2 separate regions of the Homo sapiens genome follow, and region 2 is linked to region 1. Evidence: fine-mapped expression QTL. A gene starts in region 1. The other region holds a variant in brackets. All regions are shown on one strand. Distances are between the middles of the regions. Region 1 holds the start of YARS2 (tyrosyl-tRNA synthetase 2). Region 2 overlaps DNM1L (dynamin 1 like).

Region 1 (2,914 bases):
TTTAATAGCCTATTGAATGAGTATCTCAAAATCCTATTGAAGTTACTATTTGGCAATGAGAAACTAATTCACTGATAATTATACATGCAAAGAAACTAATTATTAAAATAAGTTTTCATTTTGTTAGATAACTTTATAACGTTAAAAAATGGAAAAGTCCTGTAGGGAATGATTTGGAACATGGCCCAGATCCCAGTCACAGGACCAAGGCACTCAATCCCCCAGCTGCTGGGAGTGTTGGTTGCTTATTGCTCACAGCTGAGTCCCTTCCTGCACATCTCACTCTCCAAAAGCCTTAACCCAGCGTTTTGCTTCCTCCCCAGAAACATCCCACATTTAATGAGCAGTCAGTAAGAGGGTCTAAAGGTCTGCCCCCTGGCCTCAATTCAGGATGACTCTGAAAGGAAATCCCGGCTCCAGAGCCCTTACTGGATTGCCTGAGGCCTCTATTACAAATTGTTCACAGTTCAACTTCTTTCTCCCTCCGCCCAACCCGGCCTCCCTCACTCCATTATAGGTGTTGTTCTTAAGAGCACACTCCAATTACCCTCCTGCAAACCAGTCTCCCCCCCAACTCAGAGTCCAGGGAATTCTACCTAAGACGATTTTGAAAGCGGTCCTAGAAATCAGGCTCTAACATGGGATTTTGAAGCTAGATCACCTGCCAGCCAGCTGCCAATAAGAACCTCATCCCTGGTCAGTATTCAGAGCACCTGTCACGCTGCACGATGTGATTACTAACTTGAATCCACTCATGCTAAGCTGTGTCCCAACCTAGTTAACTGTATTTAAAATAAATAAACCACAGGACTTGATGCATGTACTTTATTGCACTGAGTTTTTCTTGCTATACCTTGGACAAGACTGCCACCTCCTGGAAGAGCCGATGAATACTGGGGACGAGGTGCAATTAGGGAATCGGTACTATGAAATTGCTTGCGTCTCAGCAGCAACTCCCTATCTCTCCGCGAACTTAAACCAATTCCTAACCTTTCTCAACCTCTGTGAACAGCTTTTTGCATGGAACCAAGACTTCAAAGAACTTGCGCATCACAATCTTTTTACGTGAAAATGTAAATACAAGTTAGCATTTGTGAAGCGTTATGTGCCAAATGCTTTAATTTTTAAGGCTCACAACAGCCTTATGAGGTAGGAACTATCATAAGCAGATCCACACTGCTGATGGAAAAATTAAGTTTAAGGGAACGTAAGGCGACGGCTCTGAGGCGGAATCGCCACTTGGAGTCGGGACTCAACTGCTGAGAGCGCAAGCTCCGTAACTACGTAACCGTCTCGGGCATGCGCAGAAAAACACTGAAGCACCTTCCCTAGGAGCTGTAAGTAGGTGGGTGTGGTGGGAGCCTCTGCAATCCCAGCATTCCCTTCGTGCCGCTACCAAGATGGCGGCGCCCATCTTGCGGTCCTTTTCCTGGGGCCGGTGGTCTGGTACCCTAAATCTCTCAGTATTGTTGCCCTTGGGGCTGCGTAAGGCCCACTCGGGCGCTCAGGGGTTACTGGCAGCGCAGAAGGCTCGAGGTCTGTTCAAGGACTTCTTCCCGGAGACGGGGACGAAAATAGAGCTCCCAGAGCTCTTCGACCGTGGCACGGCGAGTTTTCCCCAAACCATTTACTGTGGCTTCGACCCCACGGCAGACTCGCTTCATGTGGGTCATCTACTTGCGCTGCTGGGCCTGTTTCATTTGCAGCGAGCGGGCCACAACGTGATCGCGCTGGTGGGAGGCGCCACGGCGCGCCTGGGAGACCCGAGCGGCCGTACCAAGGAACGCGAGGCGCTGGAGACAGAGCGCGTGCGAGCCAACGCGCGAGCTCTGCGCCTAGGGCTTGAGGCCCTGGCGGCTAATCACCAGCAGCTTTTCACTGATGGGCGCTCCTGGGGCAGCTTCACTGTGCTGGACAACTCGGCCTGGTACCAGAAGCAGCACCTGGTGGACTTCCTGGCGGCAGTGGGGGGTCACTTCCGCATGGGGACGCTGCTGAGCCGGCAGAGCGTGCAGCTGCGGCTCAAGAGCCCCGAGGGCATGAGCTTGGCCGAGTTCTTTTACCAGGTGCTCCAGGCCTATGACTTCTATTACCTCTTCCAGCGTTATGGATGCAGGGTCCAGCTGGGCGGATCTGATCAACTAGGCAACATCATGTCCGGATATGAGTTCATCAACAAGTAAGTGCCTTTAAACCTTGGGGAAATCCTGGGACCAAATAATTTACACACTAGTAGCCTGTGATTCACTCTTAGGATTGTAGTTGCTGCCCTTCGTTCCAGCTCTTGTTGGTTTTATCCCCATTAAGGCTCTATAATGGCGTTAATAACACTGGCTAATAAGAATTAAAGGGCTGAATTAAGGGTATTAAGAGTAAACGGTGTATTCTAAAAATTAGCTGGGCGTGGTGATGCACGCCTGTAATCCCAGCTATTCGGGAGGCTGAGGCAGGAGAATCTCTTGAACCCGGGAGGCGAAGGTTTCAGTGAGCCGAGATCGCGCCACTGCACTCCAGCCTGGGGCAACAGAGGGAGACTCCGTCTCAAAAAAAAAAAAAAAAAAAAGGGAAACAGACCACTAGTGAAGATTTGGTCGGTCTGTTTTGCTTCGCCTAAGTCGTCCTCTCTAATTAGAGAAACTGCTTTTGTGTGTTTATACCAGAACGTGACTGGGCCTCCTTGAGTAGCTAGCCTCTGCTTTAGCTCTGCACCCTCCATGAAACTAGTGTTAGTCCTTGGTTGGTATCTCAAAAAGTTTTTTCAACTCCAAATAATTGACAAGTAATGCGGGTCTAATAGCATTTTCTTGAGAGAGGTGAAGGATAGGGCTAGCTCATGTGCAACAGAGCAAAGCACATGTTTAAAAGGCGTTTAGAAGATTTCCTTTAGTGTCTCTTCCTGACACCCCTTCACCCA
Region 2 (2,914 bases), 71 kb after region 1:
TCACTTGAACCCGGGAGGTGGAGGTTGCTGTGAGCCGAGATCGCGCCATTGCACTCCAGCCTGGGCAACAAGAGCAAAACTCCATCTCAAAAAAAAAAAAAAAAAAAAAAGGCTAATTTTATGTTCTGCAAATTTCACCTCAATTTTGTTAAGTTAAAAAAAAGCAGCAGCTCATAATCTATACAAAAAAAGAGAAAAACATAAATTTATCTAAGAACACAAGAAAACAATGCATAAGCAGGAATTAAATTATAGTCAATAAATGCTAAAATGTAGACAGCAGTGCTCATGGAGAAAAAAAAGAGAGAGGGACATCAAACTATGAAAAAAGTTGTCCATAAGAGAAGGAAATGGCATAGGTGTCAAAAAGTGCTGTTTTTCAAATAAAGAATTCCAGAATGATTTAGCGCTTAAAAAAAAAAGATAACAACAAGTGTTGATAAGGATGTGCAGAAACCTGAACCCTGGAGGGGATGTGAAATGGTGCAGCCACGGCTGGGCGCAGCAGCTCACGCCTGTAATCCCAGCACTTTGGGAGGCCGAGGTGGGTGGATCATTTGAGGTCAGGAGTTCGAGACCAGCCTGACCAATATAAGGAAACCCTCGCCTCTACTAAAAATACAAAAAGTAGCCGGGCAGTAGTGGCGGGCACCTGTAATCCCAGCTACTCAGGATGCTGAAGCAGGAGAACGCCTTGAGCCTGGGAGGCAGAGGTTGCGGTAAGCCAAGATAGCGCCACAGCACTCCAGTCTGGGCGAGAAAGTGAGACCCTGTCTCAAAAAAAAAAAAAAAAAAAGGTGCAGCCACTATGGAAAACACTTTGGTAGTTTTTCAGAAAGTTAAACGTAAGAATTATCATATGAATCAGCAAGTCTACGCTTAGATATATACCCAAGAGAATCAAAAATACACATTCACTGACCGGGCGCGGTGGCTCACGCCTGTAATCCCAGCACTTTGGGAGGCCGAGGCGGGTGGATCACGAGGTGAGGAGATCGAGACCATCCTGGCTAACACGGTGAAACCCTGTCTCTACTAAAAACAAAAAATTAGCTGGGCGTGGTAGCGGGCACCTGCAGTCCCAGCTACTCGGGAGGCTGAGGCAGGAGAACGGCGTAAACCCGGGAGGCGGAGCTTGCGGTGAGCCAAGATCACGCCACTGCATTCCAGCCTGTGTGACAGAGCGAGACTCCATCTCAAAAAAAAAAAAAAAATACACATTCACACAAAAACTTGTAAACGAATGTTCGCAGAGCATTATTTATTCATAATAGCCAAAAAATAGAAACAACCCAAAAATTCATCAATTGATGAATAAACTGTGCTGTATCTATACAATGTAATATTTATTATTCTGCCATGCTACATAATGGATGAACCTAAAAAACATTATGTTGAGTGGCTCATGCCTATAATCCCAGCACTTTGGGAAGCTGAGGCAGGCAGAT[C/A]ACTTGAGGTCAGGAGTTCGAGACCAGCCTGGCCAACATGGCAAAACCTCGTCTCTACTAAAAATACAAAAAAATTAGCTGGGTGCGGTAGCACGCGCCTGTAATCCGGGCTGAGGCAGAAGAATCACCTGAACCCGGAAGGTGAAGGGTTGCAGTGAGCTGAGATTGTGCCATTGCACTCCAGCCTGAGCAACAGAGCAAAACTCTGTCTCAAAAAAGAAAAAAAAAAAGAATTATGTTGAGCAACAGATGCCTGGCACAAAAGATCAAATCACATATTATAGGATTCCACTAATGTGAAATATCCCAAATAGGCAAATCCATACAGACAAAAAGTAGATTAGTGGTTGCCAGTGATACCTGCTTTTTCCAGTATCATGCATTTTAAAATCCAATGATTCACTAATATATTTTTCAAATTAGGATCTAGGAACCATCTGTATCAGAGTCACCGATGGACCCTCACCCACGTGGGGCTTATAAAATCAAAACCTGTCAGAAGCTGGGGGAGGACAAAACGGGGGTGACTGCTTATGGGCAGGAGTTTTCTTTTTCAGGTAATGAAAATATTTTGGAATTACACTATGGTGGTACAACTTTGTGAACATACTAAACGCTGCTGAGTTGTGTATACTTTATAAGGGTGAATTTTGTGTTACATGAATATTTCAGTATTTTTAATGTTAAATTTTTAAAAGTTGATTTGCAAATTAGAAATTAAAATCCAAATTACTGGCCGGGCATGGTGGCTCATACCTGTTATCCCAGCAGGAGGCTGAGGCAGGCAGATCATTTGAGGTCAGGAGTTTGAGACCAGTCTGGCCAACGTTGTAAAATGCTGTCTCTACTAAAAATACAAAAATTAGGCCGAGCACAGTGGCTCATGTCTGTAATTCCAGCACTTTGGGAGGCCAAGGCAAGTGGATCATGAGGTCAGGAGTTCGAGACCAGCCTGACCAACACAGTGAAACCCCATCTCTACTAAAAATACAAAAATTAGCTGGGCGTGGTGGCATGCACCTGTAATCCCAGCTACTCAGGAGGCTGAGGCAGGAGAATCACTTGAACTCGGGAAGCGGAGGTTGCAGTGAGTTGAGATCGCACCACTGCACTCCAGCCTGGACAACAGAGCAAGACTCCATCTCTAAAAAAATAAATAATAAAATAAAATAAAATCCAAATTATTTTTAGGCTAGGTGCAGTGGCTCACACCTATACTCCTAGCACTTTGGGAGGCCAAGGCAAGAGGATCATTTGAGCCCAGGAGTTTGAGACCAGCCTTGGCAACATAGTAAGGCAGCGATTTTAAATTTAAAAAAAAAAATTAGCCAGATGCGTGCCTGTAGTCCCAGCTACTCAGGAGGCTGAGGCAAGAGGACTGCTTGAGCCCAGGAATTTGAGGTTACAGTGAGCTATGGATTATGCCACTGCACTCCAGCCTGGGTGAAAGAGCCAGACCCTAAAAA

What was found. PIP is the estimated chance that this variant, and not a neighbour inherited with it, causes the effect.
Region 2: its variant is the best candidate, but not a certain one, in a credible set for the expression of YARS2 in blood mononuclear cells (TOPMed, PIP 0.50).

What each region holds. Positions count from the first base shown.
Region 1 is chr12:32,754,361-32,757,274 of GRCh38, reverse strand. It overlaps YARS2 (tyrosyl-tRNA synthetase 2), which reads left to right and starts at 1,378. Exons shown (of 5, transcript NM_001040436.3): 1 at 1,378-2,179. The coding sequence starts at 1,401. RefSeq lists enhancers at 519-1,158, 1,363-1,592, 1,613-1,712, 1,159-1,798, 2,083-2,242 and 1 more.
Region 2 is chr12:32,683,242-32,686,155 of GRCh38, reverse strand. All of the region lies in intron 1 of DNM1L (dynamin 1 like), which reads right to left. Among named protein-coding and RNA genes, the nearest start is that of DNM1L, 5.4 kb to the right of the region's middle. The variant C/A (reference allele first, on the strand shown) is at 1,449.